Linked DNA regions of Homo sapiens: region 1 is linked to region 2. The links come from fine-mapping of genetic effects on gene expression. A gene starts in region 2. The other region holds a variant in brackets. All regions are shown on one strand. Distances are between the middles of the regions.

Region 1 (8,097 bases), 25 kb after region 2:
TTTAAAATGGATACAGACACTTTAAAACTGCTGAGTTTATCTTGTGTTAAGCAATTAAGACTTCTCTGTCTAATCATGCTACTTGTTCTGCTTTTGTCAATTGATACTCTCATAGCCCTTTTGAAAAAGTATGTTTTTGTAGAAATTAAGTTGTATGCCCTCAGGACGTACAACTTGGTTTTTTTTTTTTGTTTTTTTTGTTTTTTTTTGTTTTTTTTTTAGTTCTGAAGCATGTTTAGATTTTTCTGTACTTGTATAGGTCTGATTGTTTATGTGGCTTAGCTAAGGTTTCCTAAAGCATCTTCTAGTAGCTGTCATTGGTTTGTAAAATAAAATTTGGGCTGTCAAAATGCACATTTTTTGGTTGTTAATCTTAATTATTTTTGACCCTTGTGAAAAGTCTTTTTGGGGAAGATTAGGTAGGCAGACTTTGAAAATATTTTCACTGCTATGAGAGTCAGTCATAGATCATATTGCACATTAAAGTTATCAAGATAAACACCCAGGTCATACACCCAGTAGAAAAAGATGATTTCCCAGAAGCTGTTAGAATTTTCAGATTGACCAAATTGATGTTTAACACATCTTCTTTTTCATGGAGAATGGCAGCTGAAACAATAAGGAACATTTGCTTGAAATCCCTAGTCCACTTCTGATACAGTGTTTTGAGCCTTCCATATTTGTTGTTAGGTATTAAACGTGCTGCCATGAGACTCCTATGTTAACAAGGGCATTAGGGTGGGGTTTGTTGAATTCTTTTTATAATTTGAAATGATAAAGGGGATCTTGATTTTAATTATTGAAGTAGCCCAGTTTATTGCTGAACGTGCCCATATTTTGCCATAATAATTACCTTTTGGATTATGAAACAAGTACGAAAGGTTATCTTTGAAGAACATGGGCACCTTGTAATATGTTACAGGCTGAGACACTAGGATGAAAGAAGGCACATCTCTCCCCTCAAGTTTAGTCTTGCGGTAGAACTTTAAAAAAAAGCCAACAATGGGGATAATTGAGTTTTAAACTTGATGGCAATGATTTAAGTGAAGAGAACACCTGGGTTTATTTTCTGGTGTTGGAGAGGTGAATAAACATCAACAGTTGAACCTTTGATTTCAGTGGATTTCAACATGAGGGGGTAGGACTTTGAAGTATTATTCTTTTTCAGAATTCGTAAGTGCCAGGCACTGTGCTTAGGTCATTAGATGGAGATGAAAAGATATTTTCTATAGGAAGAGACGGTTGATTGTACCATGCTGTAGAAAGATAGCTCAAGATTTTTTTTTGGTTTATTTTGTTTTTTAAAAGTAAGCTTGTGCCGGTTGGGGAAGAGGAAGTGAAGTTCCTTTTTGATGGTGTTGAGTTTGAGATGTCCAGTAGGCAGTTAGAAATCTGGGAGGGCCGTTGAGCTCATTAGTCTAGTTTTGGGAAACGTGTGTGGGTAAGGTAGGGGTTGAGGATATCACCCAGGGTGACACCAGCCTTTCAGGGGCAGAAGGGAACCCCACCAAGGCGACTGAGGAGTGAGCGGAGAGTTTCAATTTCAAGGAGGGGGAAAGAGGAGCCAGCAGGAAACTAAAATGGAGAGGTAGGAGAACCAGGGAAGGAGCCTCATAAGGGAGGTGCTGGGGAACAGGTGGGCTCACTCAGGGAGTGAATGTTGGGAGAGACAGACATTTGCAAATGTTGGAAGAGACAGATAGTTGCAGGCCTCACTATTTCAGAGAGCTGCAAATTGCATGATGTTGGTAGTCGGGATACGGTCTAAGGGTGAAGTGAAGAGAGCAGGAAGGGAAGAGAGAGAAACTGTTCAAAGAGATGAGGCCTAAGAGGCAGGCTGGCCCTAGGACCAACCTGAAGCCACCTTTTTGCTAAAATACTCTAGGCTTGGAAGAGGATCAGAATAACTGAATAGGAATATAGATTACACTTGGGTGGGAGTGCCAGCTCTTGTTTACTACCTGTTGACCTTGGATGAATTAACTTTTAAACTTGGGTTTTCACCTGCAGAATGGAGATATTATAGGTGTCATAGGAAGTAATTGACATAGTACCTGACACAGGAAGTATTCTCATGTTAATGCTTCTATTTTTTAATAGGTGCTAGCCTTGGAAAGGTTGAGAGGCTGAAGAGGGACAGTTTGATTTCCTCTGACCACCAGCAGGAGGGGAGGATGTGTCTTCTGCAGGGAGAGCAGCCAGGGGGATTGGTTGGATCAGTGCAGAAAGGAATGGGGGCACCTAGAGTGCGGAGTTGAGCACCTCAGAAGGGAGGTGTGGCCCTCAGGACATTGTCAGCATGTGCGATGATAGTGGAGGCCATGGATTTGAGAACATTTCAGAGAATATTTGATGGAGGGGAACGCCAAGGGGAATGTAATAGATTTGTGATAGGAGGCAGAGACTTTTCAACTTAAAATTCAAATTTAAACTACATTTTTAGGGAGTTCATGATTAGAAAGAATGGGCCCCTGTCAAATGAAACCTCTAAGCTTACTTGAAAATCTTATAAGTCCTATTCTTTGAAAATTAATTGATAGTCAAGCAATAACAGATCCCTAGGTGAGGAGAGAATAGTGGAAGGGGAAATTCCTAAGGCAGAAGATCACTGCCAGTGACGGTAGGTTTTTAAAAATGCAACACTGTGTTTGGTGTTTCCTGGCCTGACTCATACCTTTCACAGGTTTATCCTGAATGTTTAGGAGTGGAATGTAAGTTTGGCTCTTTAACTGTGTAAGAGTTTAAGGAAAGGAATAAGTATCCATGAGTGCTGGGTATATTCTGGATTCAGTAAAGTAACTCTTTTGTTTTTGAGACGGAGTTTCGCTCTTGTCACCCAGGATGGAGTGCAGTCTCGGTTCTTTGCAACCACCGCCTCCCGGGTTCAAGCGATTCTCCTCCTTAGCCTCCCGAGTAGCTGGGATTACAGGCGCCTGCCACCACGCCGGGCTAATTTTTGTATTTTTTAGTAGAGACGAGTTTTCACCATGTTGGCCAGGCTGGTCATGAACTCCTGACCTGAAGAGATCTGCCCGGCCTCCCAAAGTGCTGGGATTACAGGTGTGAGCCACTGCGCCTGGCCTTGGATTCAGTAACTCTTAATGTTGAAAACAAAGCAGCAGGATTCTTCACAACCCTCTCCCCTCCCCACTTCCATGAAGGATTAGAGAGGCTCATGATTGAGGCTGTCCTGAAGGATATCTACCAAATACATTCCAGACCTTAGGTGATCACATAGCCTGATTTGTCCAGGGTAGACTGACTTTGTACCTCATGTCCCAGTAGAAATTTTAACAGTGACTCTTTTCGGGCTCAACAGTAATCTGTTTTGGATGGCAAGTTATGTGATCACCTTATCTAGAGGGGATGTTGGAACAAGCCCACCTAGGCCTGGAAGTGATTTCTGGCTCTCCTGAATACATCACACACATACACACTCATCAGAGGGGTCTGTTGGAATGGTAACTTTGGGTAACCAAAAATGTCTTGTCTTTAAAGCAAATGTCTCCTGTCCTTATCTGTAAATTTTGTGCAGTACCTACCTCATAGATGGGAGAATTTAATGAGATATTTGTACACCTAGCACGGTGGTTGACACGTAGTAACTTTTAGTAATTGGTAGTTACCAATATTGTAGATATTGGTAGTATTACCAATAAAATATATGTCAAGGCCAGATGATATGTTTATCCAGAATAAAACTTAATTGCTTACTAGTAATCCCTTATAAAGGAAATAGGCAGACATGCTTTGACATTGTGACAACATGGAAAGTAAGTGGGTTGCTTTCAAAAGGGTTACATAATTGAGCAACTCTAAAACCTTTTTTCTTCTTCCTAGGTCTTAGTGGTGCAATGGCTAGTATAAGCGTGCGTTCGAGTACCCCAGGCTCTCCTACACATGTAAGCAGTGGATCGAATGCTAGTCGAAGGAGAAATGGACTCCATGATGTCGATTTGAACACTTTCATATCAGAAGAAATGGCACTCCACTTGGACAATGGTGGAACTAGAAAGCGTACCTCAGCCCAGTGTGGCGATGTCATTACAGACTCACCAACCCATAAACGCAACAGAATGATCTAAACTGCAAACATTTTCACACCCACCATGCTGCTTGAAAGCCACTTGATCCTCAACATATACTATAATTGCAAAGGAAACATGAGGCCATCTTCCCTTGTTCACTGTTTAAGACAAGTGAATTCTATAGTGGTTGCCATAAAAGGAAGTTCTAGGTATTTATAGTAGATGCCTCTTGTAATTATGGCTTTCTTAAAACTATAATCCTAGCAGAGGACATCAGATATTGTGTAGTCGTTAGCAAGATCATCATAGGCAAACATATATCCGTTCCAAGGCTAAAAGTGACCTTAACTGTATTTATTCTCAAAGGGAAAGGAAATATCAGATGTTTATTTGGTTATAGAATGCTTTTTTTTTTTTTGGGTCCATTTCCTGCTGTGTTGAGTATTTTGCTTCAACAGTATTGCCAGGTTCCTAAAATTGTCTAAAAACATGATTTGGCTTCCATTTTTGCAGCTGCACTGTACCATGCACCTGGTTTCTATATAGTAACAGTGTGCAATTCTAATTATTGGACTGTGCCCT[G/C]TTTTTAGTTTTCAAATCAATTTCTAATTCTGGTGATTGTGTGATGTAAAGAGGTGCTATGATGGTCATGCAATTAATACTAAATATTGAATCAATGCCCAGAGCTTTATTGGATTCACTTTGTGTGTGTTAGTGCTCTAAAGTAGCAGTATTATTATTAAACTGTCCCCAGAGTAACCCTGTAGGCCTAAAGTACTCAGTTTTAAGACAAACACTACTTCCCATGCGGGGTACTTTCCTTATGGTAAATGTAAACATGTAGACTGCATTCGAGGTGACCTAAAGTAGAGAGGTCATGAACTTTGAGAATGGGCTTCCTTTTTGGTTCAGTATTAGTGAGAGGGAGAGGGAGATGGATGGTGGGGTAGGTTTTCTAGTCTATCATTTTACATTTTTCATGGAGTCCCTGCTTAGTGCAGTTTCCATTGGAATGGGTGGAAGATGATAAAGCTCTCTTTTTTATCTACTAATAATGTGATTGCAACTTAAAATAGCAAAACCCAACTCTCCCTGTCCCTCCAATCCCTCTCCTAAAAAGTTCAGTTTGGAATCTCATTCTGGAAAAGATGGAATCGCATGGAGATTCTCTAGCTGTTAGGTAGACCTAAATAAAAAGTTCTCAATAGATTCCTCTTTTGAGTAAATATAAGACCTCTTGTAGCTACAATGTTTTAGAGCATGTTTCATCTTCATTTTTAATATCCTGAACTGAATGATAGTGTTTTTTTAGATGAAGAACTGATGTCAGCCTGCCAGGTACTGTAATTTATTCTATCATATTATTATATTATATATCAAGTAGGACAGTGAAAAATGTTTCCTTGCAAACTTGTAGTCCAGTATCAGTTACTTCCTATTTTTATCCTTAAAAGACCATTGCAAATCAGTGTAAGGGTTTTTCCAGTAATTACTCACAGCACTTTGTTAAAGTTTGCAATTTCTTCAGCCATTTAATAATATCTTTCTGTGAAGAAACTTTGCTGAGTTAACCATAAATGTTCATTCATTGACTGGGTGGGATGTGAATGGAATGTTAGAAATGTTGTGTGAATTGAAGTTCTGTATTCATTATAGATGTAGCCCTTATTTAAAAAAGTGAATTCCATACTAAAACTAGGAATGAAAGTGAGAGATTTCTAAACTTTTGCGAAAGTGGGTCATTTTTTGTTTGACTATAATAGCAGGAAGAATTATAGCAATCTGTCATTTTACCTGAAACAGACAAGCCTATGTATTATGAATACTTTCAAGCTTCCCTTTGGAATATACAAGACATGCGTTTGGAGTTACCTTTGTTTTTCTATCGTAAATTTAGATTCTGGAATTGGGGTTTGGTGGTGCAATGTGTTGCTCACAAGTGGCCAGAACTCCTATTCCTAAAAGGATTTTGAGATGGAGGAACACATATTTAATTCCCCTTTATGCCTTGGTTCTTGCTCCTCTTTCCACGTTGGATAACAATTTTTTGGTTGTTTTGTTTAAGTTGGTGCTCTGAAGCTTAATCTCAGTACCCTTTACTCTGAATTGTCAAATTTTGATAAAACGTGCCATTTTCTTTGGTAAGAGAAAGCAGGTCTTAATGTCTGCCAGAACACAATTTATATGCCTTATTGGCTTCATTAAACTTTTAGAAAACTTTAGCATTTGTTACTTTTTTCCATTGCGTTTACTTTCAAATGCACCTAATGAATTTGTCACCCAGTCGCAACTTTTCCCTTCTCTGTCCCATTGCTTTCTCCTTTCCCCGACGCACAGAATAAACATGAAGCTCAGCAGTAGAAGCGTAATGATTTCCCTCAGGAAAAACTTCTGACAGCTAGGTTTTTCAAGGGTTTCCCTGTGCTAGCTGAGATGCAAAACAAATCATGGAAGATTGCATACCTGTGTGGTATTTTAAAAACAAGTTGACTTTTTCAGTTTCTTGAACGGTTAAGGGTGGATTTAAAAACTAGACAGTTTAGTTTTGGGGAACAGAAGCTCTCTTCGTCTTAAGCCAGATTCTCTGATTCTTTTAGACGTCATAGCTCCTTAGTTCTGCTCCTGTCGCCCTAACTTGGCATGGGCAAGTTGAAGTTCATCCTTAGACTGCAGCGTTCTGAGCATGGCTGAAGTATTAAAATGTTTAATATTTTTTAGAGCAAAATTGTTGGAAAGCATTTGGCTGAATCTAAAGACCTGCAGTCAGATTCTTCAATGTGGTTTACCCAACTGGAGTAGTGATAAACACCTTAATCATAAAATGAATAAAAACAAAAAAACCATGGGGCTTGTCTGCAGTTTTGTTTTGGTCATCACATCTGAATAACTTTTTGATGCAATCAAATGAAGTTTAGGCTTTTAAAAAAGAATTAGCTTTCTAAATGTTTTTTTCTAAGGGCTACTGGAACTCATTAAACTCGAATAATTGTGGCTTTGGGCCTGAAGATTTCCATTCAACAGTGAAAACTGGCTAACTTCCTTTATAGTGAGAGGGATGGCCAACATCCAACCCAGAGGGCTAGTCAGCCTCAGAGGCCAGTGCAAGACGCCAAGAGATGATTTTGAAATGGGGCCATAAGTTTAGAAAATTATGAACAGAATGATTGAGTTTTTGGCCTGGCTACTACCTCTAGTGGTGACTACGTCAGCAGATTAATCTCATTGCATTTTACTTTATGTAGTATGTTGTAACCTGGTGCTTCATTCATTAGATTGGTGACTGAGGTATTTAGTCATGGTGAGGATGGGAATCTTCAGAGATACATTCTGGATTTGTGGAATAAAGTGACTAGAAAGGTTCTTCCAGAGCAACCCCTTGTTTAAAGTTATAAGTGTTTATGGTACCTGCTACCCCTTCTGGAAAGTTGTCGGCTTTGATGGTTTAGATGACCTTACCCCATAAGGCCAGCTTCTAGCCTCCCTTTGGAATATTTGAGGTGTGTGATGTTTTAGTGGGGGCAGCATTTGAGAGACGAGCAGGCCCGAGCACCCAGGCTGGCTGTCAGACCGTGTGTTGTGCTGTTGGGTTTGATGGGATGAGATATCCAGGGTTTTACTTCCTATAATGGGATCTGCAGGCTCCTTGTGAAGTTCAGTTAGACAGTAGCCTGTGACGTAGCAAGTCAAGTTTTCGATGGCCCCTCATTTTTTTTTTATTTAGTGCTTAAAAAAAAGATTTAAAACAGCAAAAATCAAGCCACACAGCAGCTTATAGTATATACAGGTCTTTTATACATTAGAAGTAATATGGTGAAATCTTTTTTTTTTTTTTTTTTTTTTGTGATGGAGTTTCACTCTCTCACCCAGGCTGGAGTGCAGTGGCACGATCTTGGCTCACCACAACCTCTGCCTCCTGGGTTCAAGCAATTTTCATGCCTCAGCCTCCCGAGTAGCTGGTATTACAGGTGCCTGCCACCACACCTGGCTATTTTTTGTATTTTTGTTAGATACGGGGTTTCAAATATGGTGAAATCTTGTGACAGAATAGTATTCCCTTGTACAGATAAGC
Region 2 (8,101 bases):
CTATTTTTTTATTAGTAGAGATGGGGTTTCTCCATGTTGGCCAGGCTGGTCTCGAATTCCTGACCTCAGGTGATCTGCCTGCCTTGGCCTCCCAAAAGTGCTGGGATTACAGGCATGAGTCACCGCTCCCGGCTTATGAGGTTTCATCTTTAAACTGAAGAGTAGGTGGCATTGGAGAGAATCTCCACATTGACAAGGTCTTCTATTTGCTGACTGCTGGTCATAATACGTATCGTGCATTGTTATTTGACATTCCTCCATTCCAAGTGGCATTGATTATAAGGTACACATGAATAAGAAGATAATAAGCATTTGTATAATAGCTCAAGTGCTCTAAGACTATCAATTCAGAATTCAGAAACTTTTCGAGGTGGGTTGGGTGCAGTAGTTCACACCTATAATTCCAGCACTTTGGGAGGCTGAGGCAGGAGGATTGCTTGAGTCCAGGAGTTGGAAACCAGCCTGGGCAACACTGCAAAACCCCATCTTTACAAAAAATACATTTAGCCAGGCATGGTAGCATGTGCCTGTAGTCCCAGCTACCTGGGAGGCTGAGGTGGGAGAACTGCTTAAGCCCAAGAATTGGAGACCAATCTGGGCAACATTGCAAAACTATCTCTACAAAAAACACAAAAAATTATCTGGGCATGCTGGTGCACACCTCTGATCCCAGCTACTAGGAAGGCTGAGGCAGGAGAATGGCTTGTACCCAGGAGGCAGAAGTTGCAGTGAGCTGAGATCACGCCACTGCACTCCAGCCTGGGCGACAGAGCGAGATTTCGTCTCGAAACAACAACAAAAAAGAAACTCTTAGAGGTTAACACAAAGCTCAGGGTCATGGAAATCAAGCAGATAGGTGGTGCTTTTCAATATTTATTCCTTTTTCTTTAGACTGTTTTTTCCAACTGACAAATATTTATTATAGAGCCAGCGTTTATGCTATTCAATATCATTCCATCTTGTATGTATGGCTGAAATATTATGTTCTTACAAGAAAAGGCCAGAGGCTTCTGGAACAGGGTCTGAGTTACATGAAGGAGAAGAAGAGCAGCCTTCATTCTGTAAAAACTCGAAACCTTTGGACTGTCCAAAGTGGTGTGTGGCTTTTGAAGCGGAGCCTGCAGGCAGCGAAATCGTCCAGCTGTGTTCTCTCCTTTGTCATACCTACATGTGCAGGCCTGGACTTCCCACGTGCTACCATGAATGCAGAAATGTAGAAATTGACATATCAACAACCATTGATCGTACACTCAGCAGGCAGTTTTATTGATTGATTGATTGATTGAGATGGGGTCTCTGTCACCCAGGCTGGAGTGTAGTGGCACTATCTCGGCTCACTGCAACCTATGCCTTCTGGGCTCAAGCAATCCTCCCGCCTCAGCCTCCTGAGTAGCTGGAACTACACGTGTGTGCCGCCATGCCTGGCTGTGTTTTGTATTTTTTTGTAGAGACTGGGTTTCACTATGTCGCCTAGGCTGGTCTTGAACTCTTGAGTTCAAGCAATCCTTGCGTCTTGGCCTCCTAAATTGTTGAGATTATAGGTGTAAGCTACCATGCCTACCCTCCTAAAATATTTAACTCATATACCTTGTGACTCTAAAATACTATTTCTGAGGATATATATTCAATACACATATGTATATATGCAAGGATGTTCACTGTATTACATATGTACAAGATGTTCATTATGGCATTGTTTATAATAGCCAAAGACTGGTCACAATCTAAATTTGTATCAATAGGGGCCCTGTAAAATACTTTGTAGTGAATCCATACAATGAAATTATTTGCAATATTTTAAAAGAATAAATAAGTCTTTAGGTCCCAATGTGGAGACATCCAAATTATGTTAAGGAAAAAAGGCTTGTAGGATAGTACACATAAAATCATCTTTTTTTTTCCTTAAGAAGGGACATACTTGTATATAGGTACACACACACATACACACTCGACGTACACATAACTCCGTTTTCAAAGGTCACAAGTTATTTCCTGGGAATAGGATTGGGAGGATGTAGAATGAGGTAGGTAGAATGATTTTTGTTTGCTTTTCACTTTATATTCTTCCCTACAATTGGAAACCTGTTTTTTAGCCACCGCGCCAGGCCTAATTTAGCATTTTAGATAGTGATTGATGTTATGAAATAATATAACCAGGCAATACGAGACAGTGTGAAGGGTGCTACTTTAGGCTTGTCCTAGTAGGCTTCCTAAACAGGAGCTATCTGAGGAAAGAGGAGGAGGAAGAGCTTCCAGAGATAGCAGACTGGGGCAGGAAAGAGCCTAGTGTCCCAGGGAAATAAGGCAGGCCAGTGTGTGAGCGTCCAGGCGAGGTGGGGAAGAGGGGGAGTGCGCAAGGTACAAGCCAAGTAGGGGATTGTGTGAGAGGCGCCAGGGCCAGATCCTGCAGGGGTTTGCAGGCCGCGGTGAGGGGGTCAGATTTTCTTCCAAAGCCGCCTTGCTCTGTGCAAGCGCACTATCGCAGGCTGCGGGCGACGCTGCCTCTGGCCGGCGCCCTCCGCCGCTCCAGGCCGGATGGTGCCTCCCGTGGGCATGTAGGTGGGGATGGTGGGTTTTGCCTCTGTGCGGTCACCGCCTGTCTGCGTTGCTGCCTTCTCCGGGGCCTCAGACCCTGGAGAAAGCCCCGACAGGGGAGGGGGGCGCGCAGCCGCAGGGGCGTCCAGCTATCGCGCACTGCGGGGGGAGTAGGGGCGGGCGCAGCGCTCGGCACCGCCACGCGGGTTCGGGCCGGGGAAGGCAGGGGCCGGTACGTGACGCGGGGCATGCACGTGGCCTGGGAGTGTGCTTTTCGGGACAGGTGCGGGGGCCGCCGCGCGCGCAAAGGCGCAGACGCACGCGTGCGGGCACCGGGCACCGTCGGCCGTCGGGTTATCCTTGGCTCCGCGGGCGGCCGCCGAGGTCCTGTCCACCCGGAAGGCGCGACGTCCTCGGGGGACGCCAGGGCGCAGGGGCAACTGAGCCGACTTCGCAACTCGGAAGTTTTTCTTTGGCTGTGATGGTCGATTTGCCCGTCTAAGAAATGGGACTCTGGGCCGGGCGCGGTGGCTCAAGCCTGTAATCCCAGCGCCCTGGGAGGCTGGAAGATCGCCTGAGGCCAGCAGTCTAGACCTCGACAACGTAGCAAGACCCCGTCTCAAAAAAAAAAAAAAAAAAGGGGGAGTACTCAAAAGAATAGGAAAGCGCTTTGCAAACTTGGACACGAGTTGGGCGTTTTATTCACTTTCTCTACTACCCTCCTCCCTTTGGGAGCCCCAGGGGCTGGAGTAAGCACGCTACCACCCACTATACCTCTCAGTGCCCGCGGCACAGGAGCCGCACTCGACTTTGCATCCCCCCAGGGCCTGTACACGCCGGAAAAGCTCCCGCGGGGTGCGGTCGCTGGGCCTCGTCACGTGATCCCCACTCAACGCCCCTGAGCGGGGGGGGGAGCAGCGAGCAAGTGCGCATGCGCATCCCTTCTAGCTCTTCCCCTCCACCCCCCACCCGCCCCCTTGGCTCGGACGCAACCACTGTCAGCTCCTCCCCCTCCTCCTCCTTCATCCTTCCTGACATTCACTCCCTTCCCCCAGCCAATTGGTTACGTCAGGCAGACAGGCCGAAGAACCAATCACGACGCTGTGCTCAGAAGCCGCCACGCGGAACCGGCCGGATCCGACTAATAGGGGCCCTTGGAGCGGCCACGCCTCAACCGGGCAGGGTAGCTTGGGCCCAGTGGGCGGTGCTTCTCCTGTCAGCATGTGGGCGGGGTAGGGCGGGGACCAGCAGCCGCAGAGCCGTCCTCGGCGGTGGCGACGACGACGACGTTGCTCAGTCTTGGGGTGGGCTCCGCGGTGCAGGCCGAGCTGCGCGGAGGGCTCGGCGATCAGCGGCGGCGGCGGCAGTGGGGAGGCCGCAGCGCCATGGGGGGGCGTTAGACAGGCTGCGGCGGCCGAGGCGAGGGGCGGCAGCGGTTATCTGGTCCGCGGCGACCTTCGGCCGGGCCCGGGGGTGGGAAGGCCTGGGGCGGGGGTCGTCCCTGGTTGCACGGGGCCGCGGGGCGGGGCTCGCCGGCCGTCGGGGTGCAGGAGGCCTGGGCCGCTGAAAGGAGAAGGCGCCGTCGGTCGCCAGGCCCTGCCGCCGGGCCGCTTGACGACGACGCTCCCGCGGGGGCCCCGCCTGAGGAGGACGCGGCGGCGGTGGCGGCGAGGCCGCGGGAGGCCGCGGAGGATGGAGGAGCGGAAGGAGGAGGGCGAGGCCGAGATCCAGGAGCACGGGCCCGAGCACTGGTTCTCCAAGTGGGAGCGGCAGTGCCTGGCCGAGGCCGAACAGGACGAGCAGCTGCCCCCCGAGCTGCAGGAGGAGGCGGCGGCCGCCGCGCAGCCCGAGCACAAGCAGCAGAAGCTGTGGCACCTCTTCCAGAACTCGGCCACCGCCGTGGCCCAGCTCTACAAAGGTGAGGCCGCCGCCGCCATCTTGGTACCGCTTGGCCGCCCCCGCCCGGGCCCGGCCCCGGCCCTATCGGCTCAGCGGCCGCTTCGGGGGGCCGCGACGGCGGCGGCCTCGGGGATCCCGGCCGGTGGCTCCGCGGCCCTGCCGCCCCCTCCCCGCAAGATGGCGCCGCGGGAGGGAGGCCCGGGGTTGGGGGGACAGGCCAGAGCCGGCGTGGGGGTAGCCCCGCTTTGGGGTGGTCCGAGGGTCCCCGCTCTCCGGGCCCGGCCACCCGGTGTCCCCCTCGGCCCGGAGACGGGAGAGGAGGAGCCCCCGTCACAAAATGGCGAAGGGAGACGGCGGGGCGGCCCCATTGTGCCCTGAGCCGGCCTCGGGGCGGGGACTGCCAGGGGGGGCGCTTCCCTGCGCCGCGGCTCGTCCCTGATCTGTGCCCCTGAGCTCTGCGGCATCCCCTTTTCCCCGCCGCGACCTCCCTGCCCCCCCGGTCCTCACACTGGGTTTGGGATCCCGAAACCCCTGAACAAAATGGCGAAACCTAATATGGCCGTTCCGGAGTGATTGACGCGCAAATAACATTCTTGTTCTCTTTCTTTCTCTTTCTATGTGTGTTTCTTTTTTCTTTTTGGTTTTTTTTTTTTTTGGCTTGCTTTTCAGACCGAGTGTGTCAGCAGCCAGGACTTTCTCTCTGGGTCCCCTTCCAAAACGCAGCCACCGCCGTCACCAATCTCTACAAAGGTAAAGATAACCTTGCTGCATTGCCGATTCAGGGAAGGGCCGCCTGCGTCAGGGTGTCTGCCCTGCGTTCCAAGTGTGTTTTCTGCTCCCCAGCCCAGCTGCTAACCTTGAATACCTTGCAACTTGAGAATCGCGGCGGTGCTCTAGCTAGATCCACCGGAGGCGATTTTGACACCTCCCTCCGCCCCCCGGGACAGATGGCAACGCCTGGGGACGTTTTTGGTTGGCTTCTCCTAGAAGGGGCTGTTGTTGGGCACCCAGTGTATAGAGGCTGCTGAAGGTCCTGCAGTGCCCAAGATAACCGCCCCGGCCCCCTCTCAGCGAAGAATTATCATGCCCCTAAAGTCAGTAGTGCTCAGGTTGAGAAGCGTTGAGCTGGAAGACGGCTGAGCCTTGCCTCCCTCTGGAAAAGACATTGAGGGAAGATAAGAGTTGATGTTTTTTGTACTACAGTCGGAAGTGGGACGAACTTTATGGAAAAGATTCTTGAGTTAGGCATTTGAAAGCGTGGCAGTCTATATAGTTTTGAAGTGCTTGAAAGCTTGCTAATCGGAGTCATCTGCGCGCATGTTAACGTGCTGCTCTTCTCTAGCAATTTGATCAAGTGTTTTCTGTTAAAAGGATCCTATATTTGATTATAAGTTGCTGGCAGGAATTCTGTTGAGAGTTTTGAGTCCATAGGTTTGTTTTATGGTGGTTCCTTTCTGGAGTTAATCCCCCTCCCTTTGTGATGACATGAAGATGTGTAAGTAAACGTTCTTGCCCATTTGTGCATTCTTGGTAACGGTGGGTTTAGATTTTGTGCCTTACTGGTTTTGAAGATTGAGAAATTTGGGGTTGATTTTTTTTTTTGGCAAGATTTTTATGGAAAAAGGATTTGACTTTGTTAATCTTAAGAAATATGTAATTAAATGTTTTCAGACTTTTAAAAGTTGCTCAGAACAGTAATGGAACTTTGTGCATTTCAAAAATACCAATATTGGTATTTTTGCCATATATATTTAGGCCATATATAGGTTGAAACGGGCTATGAAGGTGCTGCTTGACTGTCAAGTTGTTAATTTTTGCATAAGAATGTGCAAATGGCCGCAGCATCTTGTAGGAAAAAATATCTCCTTGTGAGATTTCTTGAGTAGACTACAGTTTTTTGGGACAGTAATTTGAGAACTGGTAACAAAGTGGTGAAAAGAAACGCTAACTTTAGGGAATGAGGAACTGTAATAATAATAGTCCAGTCTTACTGAAAAAAGGGAAACATGGTTAAATAGTGCCTCAGTGGTTAGCTTTGATTTTATATAGCTGTTTGTTAAATTGTGACTGAGTAAATTGCTTCAACATCTATCAGTGCTGACGGTCTTGAACGTTTTGGAATGGCTCTTGGTTTTGTCCAAAAACAGAATTTTGAAATAATACTTAATTAAAAAAAAGGTTTCTGGGAGTGTAATTTACATACAGTAAAATCACTGTTTTAGGATATATACTTTGATTTTTTTTTTTTAAGAAGTAGAATATATCTATCACCCCCACCTCCCAGTCCCTGGCAGTCACTGATTTGATTGCTGTTTTTTCTCCTCCATCATGTCCTAAATAGAATGGTGCAGTCCTTGTAGCCTATTGTGTCTGGCTTGTTCCAGTTACTATGATAAGGTTCACCCATCGAGTTCGCATTGCAGGTGTGCATAGTTCAGTGCCTTTTGATTGGCTAGTATTACTCTATGGTGTGGCAGTACCATGGTTTATTCTTTTGCTTTTGTTGGTATTGCTTTGTGCTTGAAGGGGAAGGCAACACATTTTTAGTGTTTTTATGTGCCAGGTTCTTAGCCTAGGCCGTATAAAATGGGATTGTCCTCTGGCTTTGGTCCTGTTGGGTTCTTGTAGAATGTGTCCCTTTAGGACTAACCTAGCAGTTTTCGTTAGTGCTAACTTTTCGTGTAAGAAGATGGGTTCAGCAGTTGAACTCTGAAATAATCCTTAATTTGATTACTTCATTTAAAAATGTTTACAATTTGTTTGTTTTCCTGCTCAGAAAACTTAAGGAGGAACATTAATTTTATTTTTAGAAAACATCACATATGATTCTTGGATTATTGTAAATGCTAGATTGTTAGTCTGAACTAGTTTTATTTTGTACCTTGTTTCTGTACAGTGAAAACACATCCCTTGCCTAATAGAAATGGTAAGTTGTGTCTTGTGGAATTTGATAGTGCAACGTTTTCTTATTTGATTCAAGGAGTGTGTGGATAATACTCTGGATAGCCTCACACTTTTTCTTTTTCAGGGTGTGGTCTTTAGAGAACAGGCATACAGCTGTAGGAATAATTGGTTACCTTAAATAGAACCAATAAAATTAGCAAGGTGGTGTCACAAGTGCATGCAGCAGTAAGTAGTACTAAATTTAAATGATATTGGTTATAGTTCTGATTAAATATTTAAATATAATTTAAGGGGGGAAAAATTTGGTGGATACTTCTAAGTGGGCAGCAGGCAGCATTCCTGTATTTTGTATAATATCTGACAAGGTAAAAATGGCTTATTGTGCAGCCTGGGGACAATTTGGCACTCCTACCAGCTTCTTGATAACTACCAAGAAGTTCATTAGGTGTTTATCTCAATCCTGACCTTCATTAAGAAGGTCAGGATTGAGATTAAAAACCCAGCAGAGGGTCGCTTTTAGTTGTCAGAGGGCTTTTGAAAAGTTGAAAATTGAGTTAATTGGTTTGGTTGGAATGTGGCTAGAAGGATTTGGAAGATAATGTAAATGTAAGTTGAACTTCAGCAAGGACAGAATTCAATAAAATGGAGTGGGTGGTTACCTCTACTGTAAATAGTAGGGTCAGACTTGTCTTCCCCTTTCCAAAAAAGGAAGGAAGCCAAAATACTGACTGCTGGTTTTTGATTTGATAAATGCAAAGAGGAT

The links. PIP is the estimated chance that this variant, and not a neighbour inherited with it, causes the effect.
Region 1: its variant is fine-mapped to the expression of HAPSTR1 in whole blood (INTERVAL, PIP above 0.99).

What each region holds. Positions count from the first base shown.
Region 1 is chr16:9,112,828-9,120,924 of GRCh38, forward strand. It overlaps HAPSTR1 (HUWE1 associated protein modifying stress responses), which reads left to right. Exons shown (of 4, transcript NM_014117.3): 4 at 3,841-8,097. The coding sequence ends at 4,085. Among named protein-coding and RNA genes, the nearest start is that of HAPSTR1, 25 kb to the left of the region's middle. RefSeq lists a silencer at 2,485-2,779. The variant G/C (reference allele first, on the strand shown) is at 4,611.
Region 2 is chr16:9,087,818-9,095,918 of GRCh38, forward strand. HAPSTR1 (HUWE1 associated protein modifying stress responses) reads left to right here and starts at 3,827. Exons shown (of 4, transcript NM_014117.3): 1 at 3,827-4,453; 2 at 5,104-5,184. The coding sequence starts at 4,228. RefSeq lists enhancers at 1,992-2,857, 5,127-5,296 and silencers at 2,768-2,898, 3,687-3,756, 3,927-4,266, 4,477-4,976.